Regions from separate parts of the Homo sapiens genome. Here region 1 is linked to region 2. Evidence: fine-mapped expression QTL. A gene starts in region 2. The other region holds a variant in brackets. All regions are shown on one strand. Distances are from middle to middle.

Region 1 (8,000 bases), 970 kb after region 2:
TACATGGGAGTTGCATTCCTGGAAAATTCAGTATATTTTAAAACCATGCAAAATATCCTTTTAAAAAAATATGTAACATGGAGTTTAGGACCAAGGCTCAGGTAACTATAAAAATTTTTACCTACATAAATTTCTAGTGGAGTGTTTGAAATTTGTTTAGGACTGTGTCCTTCATTGTGGGACATTTGCAGATTTCTCCCTTGCCCACTAAATCTCAATAGCACCTCCTCCCTCAATTATTGTGACAATCAGTTCCTCCACATTCAACAAATTTTCCAACACCTCCCGAGCAGCACTGCCATCCTTGTTGAGAACGTGTATCTAGTTCATCTTAAGATAGAACTGCCCCCCTCATCCCCACTTTCTCTCCCAAATCCTGTGAAAGCCCAGCACAGGCACTGGGGGATACAGCAAGCCACTTAGGAGGATTCCCAGCTTGTGTCATTGAATCATCTTTAAATTTATTTTTATTTTTTTTTATATGTCTTATCATCTTCCAAAAAGGATGTTTTGGTGAACTGCAAAGAGATATACTCAGAGACAGGAAAAAGATCTGGTAGGGTGAAGAATGAAAGAAAAACAGGCAGGCAGAATAAAGCTGAAAGCTGAGCCTAGTATCTAAAACGCACACTCCCAGGGCTTGTATACTCAATAAAGTTGAGAAGTAACTGGGTTGTCAATTTAAAGAGGAATACTTGATCAGACACACAATTCTATGTTGATAAGATTAAAAACAAGCTCTAGTCATCCTTCCGTACCTGTAGGAGATTGGCTGTAGGACCTTTGTGGATGCCAAACTCTGCAGATACTCAAGTCCCTTATGTAAAATGGCATAAGGGACCATTTGCATGCAACCTATGCCCCTCCTCCCATATACTTTAAATAATCTTTAGATTACCTATAATACCTAATACAATATAAAGGCTATGGAAATAGTTGTTATACTATATTTTTTCATTTGTGTCATTTTTATTGTTATTTTTAATTTTTTAGAATATTTCCAATCCATGGTTGGGTGCGGAACCTGCGGATACAGAGGACTGACTATAATATCAAGGTAAGGACATGGATTCTGGACCCAGACTGCATACATTCAACTTGGCTTCACTTTTACAAACTGTAGGACCTTGAGCAAATCACCACATGCTTCTGTCTTGTTACCTATAACAGGATAATATCACTACCTACAATACCACACAAGTCTATTGTGAGGATTAGATAAATTGGTGCACATAAAGTTCTTAGGAGAGTATACAGTAGTTACTTGTAAGCACTATATAAACATTTGCCAAATAAGCAGAAAAAGTTCTCAGAGAAAACAGTTTTTACCAGCAGTTTTTCTCACTAATAGATGTGGAATTGAATTACCTAGATTGAAAACTCAGAGGAAACTTGACATTCATCAATTCTAATCTGTTTGTGTTACAGTGCAGGAAACTGCAGCCAGACACTGAAAGTCTAGGGGCCAAGCTCACATATTAGTTGAGGATCCACAAGTTAGTTGAGGATCCTGGTCCCCTGGTTCTTTTCTGCTGCTCTTGCCAATATCTCGGCCTGGAGCTGGCCTGTGGAGGGGTGCAGAGAAGCAGCCTATTGTCTCTCCTTCCCAGAGTGTCCACAGGTTCCAAAATTCTACCTTCTCCCAACTGTTCTATAACACCCCAAACTCTCATTTCTTCCTAAAGGACAGAGAGCAAAGAATAAATCAGGTGTGAATGACCCCTAAACTCAAACCCTCAAGGAATATGCAAACACATAGTAGAGTTCCTTTAAATATAGTAAATCTTCAACTTTGAGGAAGAGGGCGAATGGGTAGGTGGGAGGCAAAGGTTTTAAATTTAGAAATTAAAATTGAATTGTCTAAACTGGCAAAAGTCTCACCACTTTCCAGTTGTGAGACTGCACACAAAGTTACTTGAGAGTCTCCAAGCCTCATTTTTCTCTTCTGTAATGTCAAAACAGAGATCATAAGGCTGTCGGAATGGACTCTTTGTGGCAATAAGATACCATATTATAAACAGGACCCAAGGTCATGCCAGGTAAGAATGAAGTCACACACCCTTCCTCTTAAGGAATAAACTATATTGTAACTGCCTCAAGGTTTTTTCTTTCACTCTAGCAGTTAAACAAGCACTGATAAGTCTCCAGCCCACCATGAACATGGGACACATGCAACATGCATGTTTGCTTTACTATGTATGCGAGCATCCCCCACTTCCTAAATATTTATTGCCCCCTGTAACCTGCTGAATATGTAAACATAAACGTGGCCAAACCGTTCAGCATAAATTCCTGCTTTACCCCTCTCTCCCTTGAAGTGCCTGCTTTTGGTGTCTGCTGGAGGCTATGCTTCCCAGCCTATCAGGATGGCCACCTGCAGGCTGTAACCTTTTGTTAGAAGTAAAGCTCTCCTCTCCAAGTTTCTGAACCTTGTGATTCTTCAGTTAACAGTAACATGGGGATGATAATAATCAACACCTCATGGGTTGTTGTGAAGAAGAAATGAAATAATACAAAGCACCTAGCACCATGCCTGGCAGAGAGGGGCCAATAAATGTTCATCATATTTGCTATTATTATTATTATTATTATAGGCATCAGCAACCTATCAGAAGAGAAATAGTTTTCCTTTGCTCTTTGAAGAAAGGAGGCCGCCCCAGAAAGGCTTTATTCGTGTCCTCTTACTCCATGAACTTAGTTACCTTGTAGAGGGGAACGGGAATGTCTGGAAAGAAAGAACCTGAAGCTCAGTCCCGATAGGATCACATGAAGCGTCACAAAGACAGAAGGGTTGCAGGGCTGAATCCAATTCAACCACTCACTCTAGTGTGTTCCTGAGAGTGCTGTCTTCTCTCTCTGACCCTTAAACAAATATGTCTACGTTCACTGTCCAGAATATAATATAAGACAGGGCTTGGTATTATTAAGATGCTGCTTACTAAATGAGGAACTCTGAGATATTGCACAAGAAATCTAGAAACTTCATGAATTGGGGGTGAGTCTCCCAATGGTGAAAGTTCAGGAAGACTGGCTGCAAGGGGCTTTGCAAAATACACGCTTATAAACACACTTTCTCTTCCTTTAACAAGGAAAATGATAAAACTTCATAGTTACAGCGAGAAATACTGGGAAACAAAAAATACGCTCTTAAAATTTCAATAACTTCATATATTCATTCTACTTAGCTGTTACGGGAGAGAAATCAAATATCTTACTGTTGATTTTCATTTTCCAAGGGACTTTGAACTATGTGTGTAGGTGGCAGTAAATACCTTCGTTATAGCTGCTGGGAGCTGCAGACTCTGCACACACAGGTGAAGGTGGTTAGACTTGTGTTTCCTGGGAAGCAAGGGCAAGTAAGGAGTGTCTACCATGGGCCAGCTATATGCCTTTGGTATTCCATTCAACACCCTCCTCCCTGTGTTAGAGGAAACATTTCTCCTCCTGCATTCTTCCCAGCCTGTAACAGGACTTTCTGTCCTCTGGGGGATTGGGAAGTTATTTCCTGCCCCTTCCTCTTTTTACTTCTTCCCAAGGGAAAGAATGACTTCTCTTCTTAGGGAGGTTGGAGAAGGGTCCTAAACAGCGGGCTCTCTTGTTTAGGCTGACTGTGAGACAATTTTTTCATTGCTTCTGCTTTCCTATGGGGAGAACCGTTGAATCGTAGCCTGGGATCTGGAGGTTGATGTCTCTCTTCTTGCTCTCCAGAATTCATTGATTTGAGGCATGCATCTGACCTCCATGTTTCTGCACCACAGACTCAATTCTCCTCATGTGCAGGTCCAGACCCAGCTGGGGTTGTATCATTTTGAAGGTCATCTGATTGCAGGTCCACTTTAAGGGCTCCTACTCAACAACCAATAAAGGTCCTATATTCATCTGTATTTGCTGAAATATGACTATTTCTCAATTGGTTCAGAATCAGAGAAGCTCTACTACCCAGAAGAGTTGGAACGGGCCTTGAAATGTAACCCAAGCATCTTATTATACAGGTAAAAAGCCAAAAATCATATGCCCCTCTTGCCAGCTGACCTTCCCAGACCCCACCCAGGTCTGGCCACATAATAATGTGCATTGCCCAAGGTGGCTTGATTGCCTGGTCTGGCAGCTGGAGGAGTGGGCCCTGCACCTGACCTCACTGTGTCTTGGCTTTGTCCAAGTAGACCCCTTGCCTTCGATTGTTTTGTGCCTAATGTTTTCACTCATTTAGAAACACCTGCATCTTTCTTCCCCTGGCAGTGCTCTGAACCCTTTTTTTTGCCGGGGGCACTGTCACCAGTGTCTTGAGATATGTTCCTGTTCTGTATCTGACCCCAGTGGACCGGAACCTGCACGTAGGTCTGCTGCCTCCCTGCCTAGCGCTCTTTCTGCTCCCACCAGGGTGCATACCTCTGTGAATTACATGGCTGGACTTCTCTTAACATCAGACTCTATTAACTAGAACAATAGTTTTATCTCATCCTGTGATTCAAAGACGGTTGCTAGGGAAACCAGTGGGGATATGTTTAATCTGTAAATCCTGTAATTGCCCTAAAGTAGCAACAATTCATGTGCTTGCTTCAAAAGGATTTGGACTGAACTGACTGGGAAGCAGGTGAGTGAAGAAGAACAATCACAGGTTGGCTCCCCTTGTGATCTGTTCACATTCCTCATAAGGTGTTTTTTCCTGCTGCTTTGCCAAAAAGCTAAAGGGATTAAAGAGGGAGCACTGCGGTGCCCTTCTAATGGACCAGGAAAGCTAGAAAGACAAAATTATGCAGTTCTTCTCTTCTTATGGATTCAAGTGGTCAGAGCTGAGTGATTGGAGGCTGTACTGGTGGTGATGGAGAGAGATAAGAGGATAAATACTCCATTTTATTTTAAAATGGATTCAGAATCCTATAATTGTAGTTTGTAGGGGGATACTAACTCCAAATGAGGAGAAGCAAGGTATTTGGGAAGTCTTATCAGAAGAGGCCAGGGTGGTCTAAGCATAGGAGCACAGAGTCGGGTTTGGAGGC[G/A]TGCCCAGCATCATCCCCGCCAAGCCTTTCCTTAATCCACAGCAGTATTCAGTGGGTCACCCACATGCTGCTTGGGCACTGCCAAAAATGGAGAACTTGCTCCTTCCCAGAGCAGCTCATTTTGTGTTTAAACAGCCCTGATTGTTAGAAGATCTGCCTTAAATTGAACTGAAACATGGGGTGCTGGGGGCAGGGGACAATTTTCCTCCTTGACTTGGCTGTCTGGCGGAGCTCACAGAGGTTTCTTCATAAGACATGCCCTACCTCTGTCACAGGGCCCACACCCAGCAAGCCACACTGGCTCAAGGGCCCAGAACTATCCAGACCGTTGAAGAGTCCCACCTTGAGGCACAGGACAGAAGCAGTAGGGAGAAAACTAAACATTCCTTGATGTAGTGTTTGATTAAGAATAAAATGCACAGCTTCTGTCTCTCGGGGCCCTGCAATGTTTGTGATTTAAAAAAAAAAGCAAAATCTAAGTGCAGACCCTGTTTCCCAGGAGAAAAGTCACACGAAACTCTTCTTTATACAAAATGGTTCTGAGAATCATCACTACCATTATCGGTGGAGATGACTCAGTATTCTAGACTTAGCTAGTTATGCAAAGTCCAGGGAGGTCATTGTGCTCTCTTTTGGAAACATAATAGTTCCATTAATGCAGCTGAATATCACATTTGCTCTGAGCAGCTGCATCCCACTGCTGACTCATGTTGAGCTCTACAATCAGTGAAAACTTGGAGGGTATTTCTCCTTTGTAGGTGCAATATCATATGATCCCTCCTAAGCCCAGCTCTATTGGGACTATGGGTGTCCAGGGTCCCTCCTAGCTCCTTGCCTGCTTTTGCTGTCAAGTTTGTGAGTTCACCTTCTGTATTTTAAAATTCAGGATTGCAGCCTGGTGCGATGGCTTGCACCTATAATCCCAGCACTTTGGGATGCTGAGGCAGAAGGATCTCTTGAGCCCAGGAGTTTGATCAAGACCAGCCAGGGAAACATAGGGAGACCTCATCTCTACTAAAAATAATTTTTAAAAAAGTAGCCAGGTGTGGTGGTGCATGCCTGTAGCCCCAGCTACTCAGGAAGCTGAGGTGGGAGGATGGCTTGAACCTGGGAGGCCAAGGATGCAGGTAGCCATGATCGTGCCTCTGCACTACAACCTGGGCAAAAAAGCAAGACACCTGTCTCAGTAAAATAAAATTTAGGATTGCAGGGATTGCACCCTCCTGTCTCTGGTTCTTTGTTACCTATCCTGATCTGTGAAGTCTTAGGCAGTCACTGCCTGTGCATAGTTGATGTATCTATGTGGTCCCATTCTCTTCAGCTCTAATTTATCCAGACCAGCATGTTTAATAAGGTTAGATGTCTGATCTACCCTTTATTAATGTCTATTCTCTTTTCCAATTCATTGACAGAAAAGTTGGAGGAAAGCCAGGAGCCAGGGAGTTTTGCTTTCTTTGATCTGTTGAAGCAGCATAAGTAGTTTACCTAAGAGTATACTGCCCTTGTGAGAGGTAACAATGCAAGATTTTGGAAAAAGACATCTAACCTGAGTGCTTATACTTTGCATAACCCTTTTGCATTGTTTAGTACTACTGGTTTTTATGCTACTTAATTGTTTTAAAACAGGGATTTATAAAAATAGACACAATTTGCTAAATTCTCATTCAGTTCAGTCACTCTTAATGGAAAGTCTAGTTTTATATGCCACAAAGCCATAACCAAGGTGCCACCTCATTGTAGAAAAAGAATCCAGAAAGAAAGAAATGGTTTTGAGTAGCAACTTTGAAAATTCCAAACTATGAAACAAAGGCAGAAATCACTGTTACAAGGTCCTTGGCTTTCCAGGAAGTCCAAAACCCAAATGAAAAAGGCATCTTGATTTTCTCTCTGAACTCTGCTCAAGGTTTACTAAGAAACTACCTACCACGTATAAATGGGAAACACACAAAAGATGTATTTCTTGGAAGGTGAGGGGTGTTAGTGATTTTGGCCTCACATTAAGGGAGCCAGAACCTGCCTGAACTGCTAGAAATAAGGGGTGGAAAGACAGGACTGGGTTCTGGGGCTGCATCCAGGGAAAACATGTCAGTACCGTACACCTAACACCAGATGAGTGGACAGAGACATGTCAGGAGAAAAGAGGAAAAAGGAATGCCCCGGGCTCCAAAAAGAAAAGGATATGGGATTGGTGTAAGGGTCTGAGGGATGAGAGAAAAGAAAAGATGGTGATACATAATCACTTCTCTTTTTTCCTTCAGAATGATGACCTAAAACTAAACATTGGTCACTGCAATCAAAGTGTTAATATGAAAAATCAAGTACCTCGCTCTGAAATTTCAGAATTTCTTGGTGGGGAGTTAGGACTAGGAAGAATCACAGCCAAAAACAACTAACAGTAACTCCCATAGCAATGCTCTATATTTAAGATGTAGATACATCCATAATATATATACTCTGGAGTGGTTTATTAAAAGGCACTTCGAGCCATTCATAAAGAAATAAATGATAGTGCAAGGCAGCCGGACTCAATGGCCAGGAGGGGAGTTAGCAGTGAGTGCTCTTGAGGAGATGCCGAGGCTGGGTGGGCAGAGGGTACTTCGAGGGGGGCCTAAGGGAGCCCTCAGTGGGCCTGGGTGATGATGTCCTCAGAATTTCCCAGTGTGTGTGACCTCTGCAGCTTGAGTGTTCCTAAGGGAAGTTTGGAGGATAAAGACAGCATCTCTGGGACACCAGACCAGTGTCCTTCAGGTCTGGGAGCCCCACAGAGCAACAGCTGGGAAAGTATACGGTTATTGGAGGCAAAACAATCAAAATTCCATTCCAGAAACGTGTCCCTTGCAAACCTAGGTACCTGCTGCTCACTGTTCAATGGTGGCAGACATTTCAGTGTAGGCAGCTCAGTGCTTCTCATGCATAGACAGACTGCTTCCCACTTCCCCACCCAAGGGGCACCTGGAAACGCGTGTGCATGTGTTTGTCACTGTGTGTGTGTGTGTGTGT
Region 2 (16,829 bases):
TCTCCTTTACAATTCTGATGTGCTTGGAAAAATTTTATAGCATTATGCAAGTACTAAATGCCAGTGAAAGACCAAGTATGACATATTTAGGCTGTCCCTTTTAAGTGCACAGAGAAATTGCCTTACTTAGTTTTCTAGGCAGACTTTTTCTTAAGTATATCAGTTAAAGTTTGCAATAAATCCTGACATTAATTTGGGGCAATATAATTGAGCTCAAGAAAAGCCTTCCTTTAAAAATTCACAATTGTAATTACCATCTACACTAGTAAAATATTATACATAATAAATATTTTATAAACTAGAAATATTCAGAAAGCTAATCTAGTATATTTTAACTCATAACCCTTATAACATATGCCATAAAACTTTCATTTAATATACATTGCATAATCTAAGACAGATATAAAGTAATGTTTTAAAACTCTGAACTGGACGAGGTGAGGTGGCTCATGCCTGTAATCCCAGTACTTTGGGAAGCCTAGGTGGGTGGATCTCTTGAGGCCAGAAGTTCAAGACCAGCCTGGGCAGCATGGGAAAACCCCATCTCTATAAAAAATACAAAAAATTAGCTGGGCATGGTGGTGCATGCCTGTAGTCCCAGCTACTCTGGAGGCCAAGGTGGGAGAATCACCTAAACCTGGGAAGTTGAGGCTGCAGTGAGCCATGTTTGCACCACTGCACTCTACCCTAGGCAATGAGTGAGTCCTTGTTTCACAAACAAACAAACAAATTCTGAACTGAAAATTTAAGGTGGTTATGATAGTTACATTTTTGATTTTGTAATGCTGCATGACTTGTCTTCTTTGATCTTTGATATTGCCTTAGACGCGGATGTAGCAAGAGCTTCTTCAAATTCCAACTGAAAATCAAATGTCAGGGGTATAGCCATAGTTGTTTTTCTTCCTTCACTCTGAAGCCTGTTTATCTGCAGCAATGCCAAAGTGAAAAAAAAAAAAAAAAAAAGAGTACTTTTTATATGGGGAAAATCTTAGGTGGAAAGAAAAAAAATCTCACTTTACACACACACACACACAGAATTTAGGTGGCAGGCAATAATGGAAAAATAGTACAGACTGAAAATTGGGGGTCTAGTGCACCAACTGTTTTTATGCCTTTGCTGTGTGACCTGAGTTGTTCTTTTCCCATCTGTAAAATGTGGGGGTAGGACTTGAGGATTATTAAGGCTCCCTCCTAATTCTAAAGTACAGAATTTAAGGAAAGATCTACATATTTAGATACATAGAGTTCTTGGAACCATAGTAGGCATGTCCCTCCAGCCTGCTCCTCTTCCTGTAGCCACACGCACGATGAATCACACCAATCTTCCTCTAGTCGTGAGAGCCAGAAATAGAGTGAAGAAAGTAATCAAAAGAGGACTTTGTTAAAATCCTTATACAAATGGATTGAAGAAGAAAAAGGATCTAGCTAAAAGGTGAGTAAAGGAGCCGAAAGTTTTCTCTAAAAAATTATCTCAGAGCATAGCTCAAAAGAATAAAGAGATGAAAACCCTGAAAGCAAAATCAAAGGATATGGGGGACTTCTGCTTCTGCCAATAGATGGAGCACTATGGGAATTAGTCTCCTGCTCTCAACAACTAGGAGCTCAGGCAAAATATATGAAAACAACTGCCCCCAGCTATTAGAAAACAGAGTAGGACAGATCGCTGAAAGAAGGGAAATAACTGAGGTCTACCCTCTAATAGCCCAGCTTACTTCCTGGAGGTGGTTTCAGGGCTGAGGTGCAGGGAGGAGAAACCCATTGGATTGGGGGAACTCAAACCAAATCTTGCGGCTTTGATCTCGCTAAAGTTAAGAGAAAGATCGCACCAGCAATCACACTCTCACGCATTTACCTCAGAGAAATGGAAACTCATGTTCATACAAACCTGGATGCAAATGTCCATAGCAGCTTTATTTTATTTTTTAAGCAGCTTTATTTTTACTAGTAAAATCGTCAAAACAATCCAAAAGCCCTTCATGGGATGATTCGTTGAAACTTTGTACATCAGCAATAAAATTTTTATATTTGTATACATTACATTTTCAACTAGTATAATTAGTTGCTTTTTACAAATTAGTTTATATCATATTAATGTATCATTAGCTAAAAAGTAAAATTATTCACATTTGAAATGTTAACCTGTTAATGATTAAACTGAATTGTAGCTTATACGTCACAAACCTTTGTTCTTCTGGCCAAGATTATCTCTGCTTGCTTATCAAGGACATCCAACTTCTCTAGGATTTTTTCTGCCATTGTCAATCACTAAATTCCTATTTTAAAATAAGGAGGAAGAAGAACAAATCAATTCAAATTTAAACATAAAACTAGGCATAAGTTTTCAAAAGACTCACTTTTACATTACTGTTTTAGGTAAATAATAGAATTGTTTAAATCATACAGTAAATCATAGAATTGTAAATGTACCCAAGTTTTTTCAATTGAAGGCTATATGATCAGAACTCCCAGATATGTATAGGCCCCATGAATTTTTAAATTTATGATAAAGGTGAGGGGGAGAAAGTTCACGATTACCATGAGAACCATATGTGACTTATACTTGAAGCAAGACCATGTGGCTTGACTTATATCTATTTTCTTTTTAAATTTTTTTAATTAAAAATATATCAAGCTAGGAGTAGGACTTAATTTTGTCGTTGTTGTTGTTGAGACAGAGTCTTACTCTGTCACCCAGGCTGGAGTGCAGTGGTGTGATCTTGGCTCACTGCAACCTCCACCTCCTGGGTTCAAGTGATTTTCCTGCCTAAGCCTCCTGAGTAGCTGGGATTACAGGTGTGCACCACCATGCCCAGCTACTTTTTGTATTTTTAGTAGAGACAGGGGTTCATCATGTTGGCCAGGCTGGTCTCAAACTCCTGACCTCAAGTGATCCGCCTGTCTCAGCCTCCCAAAATGCTGGGATTACAGGTATGAGCCACCGTGCCTGGCCAGGAGTAGGACTTTGGACATATCTGTTTTCTTTTTGTCATGATATAATTTTAATGAAAGTAAACACAGGGAACTCATATTTATATAATTAATTGCTTCAAATTAAATTGGTCAATGATCCAAGACTGTTAACAGCATGTAGCAGGCAATTAGTCACACATAAGTAGCAGCAACTAAGCTGGTTAGGTCCCATTGCCATAATGGTTCATATTTCCTAGTTAATTAATATTGCTAACCGTCTCATCTGAGGTCAAGCAGTCCATATTAAGCTTAGGGAGCTGTATGAGACATCAGAACCTGGTCTAATTTATTACATCTTCAGATGAGAAAACTGAAGGCCACAGAGTACCCTATTAGTGTAATAGAAATAGCTAGGGCAGAGTGGAGGCAAGAATCCAGGAATATCAACCCAAAGCTCCCTTTATTTATTTATTTATTTATTTATTTATTTATTTATTTATTTATTTATTTTAAAAATTGAGTAGATGGGTCAGGCACAGTGGCTTATGCCTGTAATCCCAGCACTTTGGGAGGCCGAGGCGGGCAGATCACTTGAGGTCAGGAGTTCAAGACCAGCCTGGCCAACATACTGAAACCCTGTCTCTACTAAAAATACAAAAATTAGCTGTGCGTGGTGCCACATGCTTGTAATCCCAGCGATTTGGGAGGCTGAGGAGGGATCGCTTGAACCCAGGAGGCAGAGGTTGCAGTGAGCCAAGATGGCACGCCACTGTGCTCCAGCCTGGGTGACAGAGTAAGACTCTGTCTCAAAAAGAAAAAAAAAATTGTGTAGATGACCATGCATTCAGTATACTTTTGCTCACTGAATTAAATGGGCTCCAGTGGCATTTAAGTGTAAAAGTGATATCGTTCACAGAAAGTACAGAATCATCAATGTTTTCAATGAATATTAATGTTAATACTAAGGTTCTTTCCAGCTCAGAAAAATCTCTGATATTTCTCCTATATTGTATATTATTCCAGCAATGCCACATGGAGACAACAGTTCATGAAAGGAGAAAGATTCAGGATCCGATGCCAAAAGTTTACATTATTTTGTAATTGGTTTCCTTCAGCTTTTTTTTTACTCTTTTTTCCTTCACCATACATTGCCCTGAGTATGATTTCTTCATGTACTGAATGACATCCCATCCCAGCATGCCCTCTATCACGTCACTACATCCAGATTTTCCCTCCATCACACGATGTAGTCCAGTGTGATAAATAAAGTATACAGACATGCTGGGTGTGGTGGTGTGTGCCTATAATCCCAGCTACCTGGGAGGCTGATGCAGGAGGATTGCTTGACCCTAGGAGTTTGAGACCACTCTGGGCAACATAGCAAGACCTCATCTCATGAAGAAAAAAAAAAAGTAGCCAGGCACAGTAGCATGCATCTATAGTCCCAGCTGCTGGGGAGGCTGAGGTGGGAGAATCAAAAGGATCATTTGAGTCCAGGAGTTTGAGGCTGCAGTGAGCTATGATCATGCTTCTGCACCCCGGCTTGGGTGACAGAGCAAGACCCCATTTCTTTAAAAAAAATTACACAGAGGAAATTCTGGGCCATGGGGGTGCAAGCAGATAGCCTGCCTTGTGACGAACCACACAACCTCAGGTTGCACACTGGGAAGGGGAGATCCAGGATTGTGAAAGCTGATCATATGAAATGGGTCACTCTTGTGGTACCTAACTAAAACACAGTGAGAAGCCAGGGTAAGAGAAAACACTCAGGGCACAGAACATCGCTCCAAAAATGCAGTCCCTCTGCAAGTCTGGCAGCTGAAATTGACTGCTGTGACCTAAACCAGTTGTATCTAATAGCTACTGAAAAGACCTGTGGCAACTCTAAACCAATTTTGCCCACAGCCTTCACTTACCAATCTTGTCAGTGCCTCAAAACCTCACTAGTGCCAATTTGTAACATTTCCTGGTTTTATAAAACCTCTAACCTATTCTTTGTTCTTCAGAATATACTGAAGACTACTGCTCTGTGTGTATGCCCTAATTGCAATTATTTCCTCCCAAATAAATATTTTGATTTTAGAGATTAGTCTCTATATTTTATTTGACATTGACAGGGTAAAGGCATTAGCATAATGTGAATGCTGATGACTTTCTGGATTTCTTACAGGACAATAGGGGACAGATTTTGAAAGAGAACATACATTATGATTATGTGGACATATTTTCTTTTCAGACCCAAGAAACATCCCTCTTGTAAAACTAAACTAAACTAAAACTCTCCGAGGAGTTTTAGCTTTTGTGTTTCCCTTAAACATAATATGAGTTCAAGAGGGGGAGAAGGCTTTCATATTCCCCACCTAAGTTTATTTTACTGGAGACAAAGATTTCTATTTTTCAGCAAGACACAGGTAAATAACTGGAAGAATCAATGTATTGAAGTGAATGAGTTTCCCAGTTTGGGGAACGTATAAACTACATGAGGGCCAGCTGAAACAATGCTGCTCATTTGTGAGAAAGAACAGAAAGCAGATCTTTTTACAGTAAGGTGTCCTACACCTCTCACTTTTAGTCACCCCATCTTCAACACCACATAGGACATTTTAAGAGGCAAAATGTCATCCCATTATACACACACACATACGCACATGCACGCACATGCACACACAGCTGTATTTTTCTATATACAGTTAACCATAGCATGAAATAATTTTTATGTTTTTGCTTTAAAAATAGTTTGCTAAGAGTAAATTATTTGGCTATGAATGATTTCTGGAAAATCACTGTGCAGATCATGAATTTTTTTGAAGTGAGAAAAACTAACCAATTATTTTCAAGGGTCAACAACAGTTTTATGAATACTAAATTTGCCGGTTAATGAAATTGACTGAATGTTAGTTTTGTAGTATTAATTTCATATTTTGAAACTAATACAATTTTTTCAGTTTGCAAATTCTTTTCTCCCATCGGTCTTTGGCAATGTGCCAATGGTGCCTAATGGATAAATGGCCCTGGGAAAAAGTGGAGGTGAGGAAACACTATAGATTAACTTGCTTGCTTTCATCATTATATTTCATAAGTTCATCAAGGGCCTATTTTGTGTCTCCTCAAATAAATGCTGAGAGCAAAGGAACATCAGTACTAATATGATGGTGTTCCCCAACTACTTTGCATAAACTAACTACTAATCTTTTAATGCAAAATGAATCAAGACGATATTAAATGGGCTGGGCGCAGTGGCTCATACCTGTAATCCCAGCACTTTGGGAGGCTGAGGCAGGCGGGTCACTTGAGGTCAGGAGTTTGAGACCAGGCTGGCCAACATGATGAAATCTATTAAAAAAAGAAAAATACAAAAAAAGAAAAGAAAATTAGCTGGGCATGGTGGTGCATGTTTGTAATCCTAGCTACTCTGGAGGCTTAGGCAGGAGAATCCCATGAACCCGGGAGATGGAGGTTGCAGTGAGCCAAGATCACACTACTGCACTCCAGCCTAGGTGACAGAGTGAGACTCCTTCTCAAAAACCAAAAACAAACAAACGCAATGCCATCAGAGCTGTCTTTCTTAAACAGGACACTGATCAGGACCAGTTCCAGCCCACAAACCTTGGCTTGCTCTCATAACCTGAAGAATACCCAAACTCTTCAGATGACATATGAGACCATCCAAGAAAAGATAGTCCAGGATCTGGCTCAGCCCACCTTTCTAGTTTATTCCTCCTTCCCCTTTCTGTTCCACCATTTTCTACCACTCTTACTTCCTGGACACGTCCTGCCCTTTTCTCAAGCACACCATTCACTCCTGCATTTCCTTCTACTCAGAATGTTCTCCCACATGTCTTCCAGTCAAAAGCCTACTCTTTATGAAATATGGTATGAAGACTACCTCTTCTTTTTTTTTTTTTTTTTTTTTGAGATGGAGTCTCGCAGTCTAGGCTGGAGTGCGGTGGCACAATCTTGGCTCACTGCAACTTCCACCTCCCGGGTTCAAGTGATTCTCCTGCCTCAGCCTCCTGAGTAGCTGGGATTACAGGTGCCCGCCACCACACGCAGCTAATTTTTGTATTTTTGGTAGAGATGGGGTTTCACCATATTGGCCAGGCTGGTCTCAAACTCCTGACCTTGTGATCCGCCCACCTCGGCCTCCCAAAGTTCTGGGATTACAGTGCCCAGTCATGACTACCTCTTCTATGAAACTTTCCTTGGCATTGTCTCATTCCTTGTCTCGGTGACAGTCTATTTATTGTGTGCTCCTGGCCTCAAGCAATCCTCCAGCCTCTCAGCCTCCTGAGTAGCTGGGATTACAGGCAAGAGCCACTACACCAGGTTTTAAGAGGTTTACTCGCTGGGCGTGGTGGCTCACATCTGTAATCCCAGCACTTCAGGAAGCTGAGGCAGGTGGATCACTTCAAGTCAGGAGTCGAGACCTGCCTGGCCAACATGGTGAAACCCTGTGTCTACTAAAAATACAAAAAAAAATTAGCTGGTCATGGTGGCGCACGCCTGTAATCCCAGCTACTTTGGAGGTTGAGGCAGGAGAATAACCTGAACCCAGGTGGCGGAGGTTGCAGTGAGGTGTGATCGTGCCACTGCACTCCAGCCTGGGTGACGAGCGAGTCTCCATTTCAAAAAAAAAAAAGAGGTTTACTCTTTGACAGATCTCTTCCTTACTGGGTTGAAAGCTCATTTGAAGCAAGAATTGACTTATCCACCTCCGACTCTCAGCCTCAGGCAAAGCGTTTTACATCTAACGGGGATTTGAAAATTACAATTTAATTTGGAGATGTCTCTGAATATAAATTTTTAGGAAGAGTAATCCTAGTTTATCTGTAATAAATGATGTTACTTCATAATGATTTACTGGAAGATGAAATAAAAAGTTGAGTGTATTATTATAAAATGGGGTTATTGCCAATCTAAACTTGGTAAAATTGTTTTGAAAGGAAACTTGGATTTATGTTCTTAATTTCTAGCACAGTAGTGACAGTTTTTTGTTGTTGTTTGTTCGTTTGTTTTTAAAGAACACAATGAAATAGAGGCCATGCCAATTGGGGCAGAATGAATTCCCAATTACTCTCACAGTGAATCATCTACAGGCCTCACTGCAAAAACTTGCTCTCAACAAAAATTGTAGGTCAATATTATTAGCATATCAGAGACTAAGTCATATCTAAAATAAAAATGTCTTAAATATTTTAAGAGAACAATTTTATTTTAACAGCACCTTTGGGACTAAAAACAAACAAACAAAAAATAACAAAACCCAGTGTCGTCAATATAATAGGCTCAGCTGAGAAGAGTTCTTCAGCAAGTTCTAAACAACTCAGGAAAACTAAGAATCTCTAAAGTTACAAACTAAAGGCCTGAGAAATTATCTAGAAAATGCAGGCTTAAATTAAAATTCACTTCCATTATGTGGCTTTATCAGTTCAAATGCTTACTCCTTGAGGACGAGGCCACTTCTTACACTCTTATCTGACACAGTCCACTACTGAGACCACAGTAGGGACTCACTTCATCTGTTAAATGATTAATGTTTACTCAATAATTAGATAACTGGCTGAGTTATCTCCATCTCACATTCCAAGGATAGACTTAGGGGAATCTTTTTTCTTTAAATCTAAAATGTTGATAAATGGCCCATATTATAGGCTGAATTATGTTGCCCCTAAATTCGTATGTTGAAGTCCTAGGCCCCAGGATCTCAGACTGTGATTGTATTTGGACATACAGCATTTAAAGAGTAAAGTTAAAATGGGGTTGTTAGGGTAGGCCTCTGGCCAGTATGACTGGTGTCATATAAGAAGAGGAGATTGGGACACCGAGGATACACAGAGGAAAGTCGTTGTGAAGATTCAGTGAGAAGGCAGCCACCACCCCAAGCCAAGGAGCGAGGCCTCTGAAGAAAACAACCCTGCCCACCTCTCCATTTCCAACTTTTAGTGTCTAGAACTGTAAGAAAACAAATTTCTGTTGTTTAGCCACTCTGTCTATGATGTTTTGTCATGACAGTCCCAGCAAGCTAGTACAGCCCAGGCACTGAGAACTAATTTAAAAACCCGACCTATGTGCTTAGTTCCGCATTATGCATTTTCTTGTCCCTTATTTATTTATTTTTATTTTTGAGACGGTCTCACTGATTCTGTCACCCAGGCTGGAGTGCAGTGGCTGCGATCTCAGCTCACTACAACCTCCGCCTCCCAGGTTCAAGCGATTCTCCTGCCTCAGCCTCCCCAGTAGGTGGGACTACAGGCGCCCACCACCATGCCCGGCTAATTTTTGTATTTTTAGTAGAGACGGGGTTTCGCCACTGTGGCCAGGCTGGTCTCTAACTCCTGACCTCAAGTGATCCGCCCGCCTTGGCCTCCCAAAGTGCTGGGATTACAGGCGTAAGCCAACGCGCCGGCCTGGAAGGGAAGTTTCTAAGAAAAACTACTAAGGAATTTTAAAACTATGATGTACGTGGATTGTGGAGTATTATTGTGGGCGACTAATCAGATAATGATTGCAAGAATTGATTAGCCAGCTCGAAATCGCAGCACAATTACCGCAGGGGCGATCAGCTTCCACCATCCATTCCAGGATGTTGGGAGTCGTCAATTTGGAAATGTATCAATTAAGCGGCCCCCAGAGCCTCTCGCATCTCTTGCCCGGCCCCGAGTCACCTTCCCCCAGGTGCCTCCATCTCGCTGGAAACATAGGAAGCCCGACTCAAACGCTCTATGCCTATGGTCGTTTCATGGGAAAGCAAAATTAAGGGCAACATTGAGGAAGCTCATTAATATTTAGTTTAGAAGATGCAAAGGGTTCTTCCGCGAACCTGGAAGAGCCCCCCGGGCTCGCCTCTCGCCGCGGTCCCACACTTGCCTGACCTCAACCACACTCTCCCGGTCCAGGCCCCGCTGGAGAACGTCCCACCGACTCCGGGGACAGAAAGGCCGTTTATGTAAAACGACGTTTTTCCTATTTCGCCTCCCACCCTCATGCAAATTTTGATTTTCAACTCTTCCAACCCTTCCGCACCCTGAAACAAACCTCATCTCCTTTCCTCCCTCTTCTGGCTCCGCGGGTTACTCGCCCCGCCCCCACCCTTCAGTCCCTTAGCAACGCGTCCTCGGTCCGTAGAAACCGGTTGCCGAGCTCTGCCTACCTCTGAAAGGCCTAGAGAGCAGAGTTCTCTTCTCAGAGGGGCTTCGCCCACAGACTTTTGTCACTAAAAGCCCAGGTGACTCCCCAGATGCTTACGGATATTAAAACCGATTATGCTGAAGGAGTGGAAGGAGAGTCAAGTAAAAGAAGAAGATCAAGTAAAAAGAACTGGGGAACAGTGACTTTGTTTCCCCTTATTGTACCTCCTTTCTCCTTTTGTGCTTTCCTGGAAACATCGAATTTCAAAAAGAAGCTTACAAAGTCCACCATACAGCTTGCAGGTCTGAATGGAAGTCAACAGTTTATATTTGAATATTTGATGGAAGATTGCTTTCATGGCTTATGATATTAAAAACAGCAACAACAAAAAACCATTCTTATTTCCAAGGCCAAGAAACCTCCCGTGTGGTTAGTAAAATCACCACTGTATTACGCAAGTTGTGTAGCAGACTTGGCTGCACACACACATACCACTTAGCATTTTTATGAGACATAATGGAGATACACTGACATACATTCTGCTGTATTTACTGTATCCTAAGGAACCATTTGTCCTTATTGCTCACTTGTGTGAGCAGAAAATGCACTAAGGCCATGGGAATCATTTATTTTTAGAGCCATAATCTAAAAATGACTGACTTGAAAACAGCTTGTATTTAATTTAAAATGATGGGGAATTTCACAATATTGGTTACATTTTAAGTCAGGGGTTGTTCATCATTCCAAGAATGTACCTTATCTGATGCATCAAAATAGGGGGAAAAGCTTTAAAAAACAGCACTTCAACATCTGTGAGAAGAAAAGGAAAAAAAGCACCAGAATTAATCATCACAAGTCTGTGCTAGTGGCAATGGCAAAACTGCAAAAAAAAAAAAAAAAAAAAAGTATAGTTATGTAGCAATCCAAATTTGGCTAGAAATTGATATTAATAGTCAATGCATGAAAACACTGGAATCAATTTATTTCAAATATTTAAAAAACAAAAATACAATCATTAAAAGTAGAAGGTAGTTTGATTCTTTTCTGTTGCCCAGACTGGAGCACAGTGGTGTGATCATAGCCCACTGCAGCCTCAATCGCCTGTGCTCAAGTGGTTCTCCCACCTCAGCCTCCCTAGTAGCTAGGACTACAGGTGCATGCCACTATGCCAGGCTAATTTTTTTATTTTTATTTTTTTGTAAGGACAGGGGTCTCACTATGTTGCCCAGGCTAGTCTTGAACTTCTGGTCTCAAGTGATCCTCTTGCCTTGTTCTCCCAAAGTGCTGGGATTACAGATGTGAGTAGCCACTGCGACTGGCCAAGGTAGCTTGATTCTATTATATTTTTTAAGCCATATACATTCAGGAACAATGGTTTGTATGGAATTGATAACTGGAATCTAGTTGATAGTGGTGATTTGTCTAAGATTGTTGTAATACCTTCAGCTCAAAAATTTGTACAGAGGTGAAAATTAGCTTCTTAAGAATTCAGTTCAGAAACGTTAGCTACTCATTAATCTTCAGTCAATAAAATTTGTAAAGCATGAATCTTATGAAATTCTTAGAATATTATCATTATCTCAGTTAATATTTATGGAACACGTTCTGCATGTCAGGTACTAGGCTACAACTTTAAAATAGTTCTAATTTCATCCTTTACTTTTCATTCTTAAACCTTAATTCGTATCTATGGAAAGGGTATTATCTTTGATTTTAGAAAAGACCTGACTGAAATTCAAAGAAACTATGTGATTTGCCCAGCATCTTATAATTAGTAATACAATTATTAATATAACACAAAGTACAAAGTATTTTCTCTTTAATAACAAATGTTTGGTAAATGTACACAAAAAAGAATTCAAGTGGATTTTTTCCTAACTACTTTAATTGCTCTCAGTTAAATTCAGTATTTACTGAATGAGTTCATGAACCTATTATAGATAAATACTGGGTAAAGGAGCCTAATGAATGTTTTATTTTAAAAGTATACAGATTTCTTAAAATATAAACTGTATACTATAAGAAAACAAAGAAAATAAAATCTGCAGACTTTTTCCTGCTTCCTTTGAAGTAGGCCAACTACAAAGTTAGAAAGCACATTCCCCAAAACTGCCCTTACTTCTGACACCAAGTTCAGGGGGCCGTCAAAACCCTGAATAGAACCCTCAGGTTCGATAATTTGCTAGAAAGACTCACAGACCTTACTGAAAGCTATTGTATTTAGGGTTATAGTTTATTACAGGGAAAGGTTACAGATTACAACTAGCCAAGGAAAGAAGTTCACAGGGCAGAGTCAGTCCCGAAATAACAAATGTGGAGCTTTTATTGTCCTCTTCCTGTGGAGTCAGGACAGGTTACTCCCTAGCATTGTTGAATGACAATGCACACATGGAGATCTGCCACCCGGGGAAGCTCACCCAATCATTGTGTTCAGAGTTTGTAGTGGGGCTTCATCACACAGGCATAATCGGTTGATTAACCACATGGTTAATCTCTATCTCCAAGTTGATGGATACCACGTGACCCAAAGCCCTTGCCTTAAGTCACATTGTTGATCTTTCTGGAGTGGCCAGTCCCTACTCTAAGACTATGCAGGTGTGGCCACCTCCCCATCCTAAATCACATTGTTAGACTATCTCATATGACTCAAGGTCTCCAGGCAAATAAAGCTCTTTCTATCAGGCATAACATTCCTAGGGCCCAGAGATTATATCTCAGAAGGCAAGGGCAAAGGCCGGACTTTCTTTTCTTTGGGCAAGAGAGTCTTTCCTATAAATTCTTTACTATATACCTACTAGGTTTAGAAAGTATCAAAATTTGTACTTAATCATCCCCAAATGGTGAAAAGCCTGTGATTCTCCACCCCTGCCTTCTGTCCTCTCTTGAGAAAAGAGCATTTTTTTTCCCTTGCCCTACACAAACCATGAAGCCTGGGAGAAGTGTCAGTATTCTTCACCATTCCTAATGTTCCTTTCACATCTTTAAGTTTCTTCTTCCTTAGGAAAAGCTGCCTCTTCTGAGGTTAATGACAACTATCTCCCCATACATATTTACTAACAAATTCCCAGGCATTTCTCACTTTTACAGATTTGGGGACTTTCCCAATGTTCCTTTCCATAATAAATCCATTAAGCCAATAGTTTTGCCTCAAAACTCATTATCTTTCCAGATTAAAGCTATCTTTACTTCATTATCCCCTAACTCTGAAATATTAAGCTCTAACAGGTCCTCTCTGATCACTACCTGTTATCCCTTCTGCCCATTACTTCTCTTATTCTAGATAATGTGCTAGTTGGTCACTTAATGACCTTCTGTCTCTTTTATTTGTGAATCCAATGGACGTCTTTCAGGTCCTATGTTACTTGACAATTCTTCTGAATTGGACACGTTTTACTTCTGGCTCTTTGAAACATTCCCTTCCCTTGGCTTCAATTACACAACTCTCTCCTACTTTTCTTCCTCTGCCTGCTGTAAATATCATTGTACCCTGGGATTCTTTCTTGTTTGTGTGTGTGTTTTTTTTCTCCCTTTGTTTCCTTCCTAGGCTTGACATTCCCTTCCAAATTCAGTCAAAACCATGCAGCATAGAATATAGAACTTCTACCATCTGAGCCCATTCTATGTTGAACTGAGTTCTGATTGTCTTTCTAGCTTTATCTCAGCAAACCCATGGTACAGAAAGTGACTACCTTGTAACTTAATGGGAATTTTCACAAAGTTTTGGGCTTTTTATATCTGTGTCTTTTCATGCTGTTCCCTCAGCACAGGGACTTCAGAACTTCTGCAGCCCCCTGGTTCTAAGGATGGAGAAAGTTATCTATGTTAGGCCAATGAGATCACAACACCCTGACCACAGTGACTGGCTCAGGGAGAAGCAGGTGACTAATGGGAGGCCAGTCAGGGCCCAGACAATTTTATTCCGGGACTTTGAGCCTTCAGGGAAGAAGACTTCCTCTTCTAGTCTGCCTGTTATGACAATTTGAGCCTTATGCTATGGGAGCCACTATGAAGATCCTAAGAGTGGAGTCAATCCAGGGGAAGAAAACTGAGAGCTGGACCTGGGCAGTATCATTTGAGCCCAGGGTCAAGCGATCACTGAACTTAGAGCTACTCTAGACCTCTTCAGCTAACATGATCCAGTAAGTTCTCTTTGTGTATAAACCAGTCTGATTTATTTTTCTATAGAAGTAAGCCTAGAGACTGATAATATGCTCAACAAATATTTGTCAAATGAAAGGAAACCATAAAATGGATAGATTAACTATCTCAGAGGGCTGGTCTGAGAAGTAAATGATTTACCAGTCATTTACTTTTGCTAGGCCAAGCACAGTGCCTAGCAAAAAGCAGGTACATGAAACGTTCATTATGTTTCTATGCCTCCAGCACTCTCCCTGTCACCACACAGTCCACACAACATAGCTCAAAAACTGCTACCTGAACTTGATTATAAGTTCTAAGAAAACTCATATTCACAAAAATTTGACTTCTTCAGTCCTAGGCTTTTTCCCCATAAGTCTTTTTCTTCTATTAAAGACCACAACTTAATATTTACTTATGTTTTTAAAGATCACAACAGTAAACATATTCATTTGTATAGCATCTGCTACAGTTTGAATATTTGTCCCCTCCGAAAGTCATGTTGAACTTTAATCTCCAGTGTGGCAGTATTGAGAGGTGAGGCCTTAATTTATATTTTTTAAAATAAAGATAAAGTCTTGCTATGTTGCCTAGGCTAGTTTCAAACTCCTGGACCCAAGGCATCCTCTACCTCAGCCTCTCCAGTAGCTGTCCTACAGGAAAGACCCACTGCACCCAGCTTGGTGGGGCCTTTAAAAGGTTCTTGGGTCATAAGGGCAGAGCCCTTATGAATGGATTAATGAATTATGGGTTAACAGATTAATGGATTATCATGGGAGTGGGATTGGTGGTTTTATAAGAAAAGGAAGAGAAACCTAAGCGAGCAAGCATAACCCCCTCACCATGTGATGCCCTGTGCCACCGTGGGACTCTGCAGAGACCTCCCAGCAGCAAGAAGTCCCTCACCAGATGTGGCCCCTCAACCTTGCACTTCTCAGTCTCCATAACTGTGAGAAATAATTCCTTTTCTTTATAAATTCCCCATTTTCAGATATTCTGTTACAAGCAACAGAAAATGGACTAAGATAGCATCTTGCAAGGCTTCACTTACTATGCATGCAAAAGCAAAATATTTAAAGTAAAAAATTGTTAGATCTGATTTCATAAATATTTAAAATTTCTGTATGTCAAAAAAAGTCATTAAAAATGTAAGATAGGTTAAACTTGGAAATGTGTATAAACAAAGAGTATCTTAAAATTTTGCAAATCACTAAGGACAAACACCATAATGAAAAAGAATGTATGCTGAATATAGTCACTTTATAAAAGAATACCTACAAATGATCATTAATTATATATTTGATGTTCAATGACATAGTCGAAGTCATGTACATTAAGCCAATAAAATATAATCTTTTTCTTATCATCTTGGCAAGCTGGGGAAAGGAACAGAGAAAGATGCACATCTATGCTCTACTGGTTGAACTGTACATTGTTAGGATGGGAATTTACAGTTTATGTAAAAACCTTAAAAAATGTATTAATCTTTGACTCAGCAGTTTCACTTCCAAAAATTAATATTTAGAAATTAATCATAGAAATGAACAAAACTTGTAACGATGATTTTTATTTAATATTTTTTATAATGGTAAAAAATTTAAAAGTTGATAATAACATCTATCATCTATTTATTGAATTCTCACTTATTAGATTTATTATGTGTCAACAATTGCATTTTCACATACATTGTCTCATTTATTCTTCATTTTATAGATTAAAAAATGAATTTAGAGATATTAAATATTCTGATCAAGATCACAAATCTAGTAAATGGCAGATTCAGAATTTAAACCCAGTTATATTTTTTTCCAAAGCCTATGATCTGAATTACTATTTTTAGATTTTCTTGTCAAAATTTTTGTCTAGCCATAGGATGATAAATATGATGCAGCTGTTACAAGAGGTATGAAGAAATACGTAATAACATAGGAAAATGTGTATGATATTGTGTTAATTGAAGAAATTATAAGATTAGAAAGCTTTATACACAGAATGATTCTTTTAAGACAAAGTATAAGTCTCTGTTCAAAGAAAAAGATCTGTAATAAAACATCCTCAAAAGATAGTTATCTTAGGGTGGTAAAGTATATCTTGGAAATATTTTTCTACTTTGTATACTTTTGTATTTTCTAAATGCACAGACTAATTCATAGTAGAAACTATTAATGTATTATTTTTGCAGCCAACAAGTTATTAAAACACTTCAACATGGCCAAAAGACTTTTTTCTTCTTGTGAGACTGGAAAAGTCAAAAGCCTCTTAAAAAAAAAAAAGTTTGAAATTTCTTTCCACGGGGCACTCAAAAAAGTTTTTACAAGTCCGGTCCAGGGACTCATGTCTATAATCCCAGCACTTTGGTAAGCTGAGGTGGGAGGATCATTTGAGGCCAGGAGATCAAGACCAGCGTAGGCAACACAGCAAGACCCCATCTCTACTAAAATTAAAAAAAATTACCTGGGTGTAGTGATGCATATCTGCAGTCCAGCTATTCAGGAGGCTGAGGTAGAAGGATCCCTTGAGCCCTGGAGGTTGAGGCTGCAGTGAGCTGAGATCACGCCACTGCACACCAGCCTGGGTGACAGAGTGTGCAGTGGGATAATTAAGGAATCAGAGAGACCGTGGGATTGAGGAGGAATTATTTAATTATTTAGGTG

What was found. PIP is the estimated chance that this variant, and not a neighbour inherited with it, causes the effect.
Region 1: its variant is fine-mapped to the expression of C1orf141 in hippocampus (GTEx, PIP 0.98).

The regions. Positions count from the first base shown.
Region 1 is chr1:68,098,736-68,106,735 of GRCh38, forward strand. GNG12-AS1 (GNG12, DIRAS3 and WLS antisense RNA 1) reads left to right here. Exons shown (of 10, transcript NR_040077.1): 4 at 1-101; 5 at 994-1,057; 6 at 1,963-2,039. It also overlaps a transcript of WLS not described here. Among named protein-coding and RNA genes, the nearest start is that of DIRAS3, 52 kb to the left of the region's middle. The variant G/A (reference allele first, on the strand shown) is at 5,001.
Region 2 is chr1:67,124,985-67,141,813 of GRCh38, forward strand. C1orf141 (chromosome 1 open reading frame 141) reads right to left here and starts at 9,986. Exons shown (of 8, transcript NM_001276351.2): 1 at 9,946-9,986; 2 at 6,158-6,243; 3 at 2,182-2,273; 4 at 768-925. The coding sequence starts at 2,256. It also overlaps a transcript of IL23R not described here. RefSeq lists an enhancer at 12,219-12,729.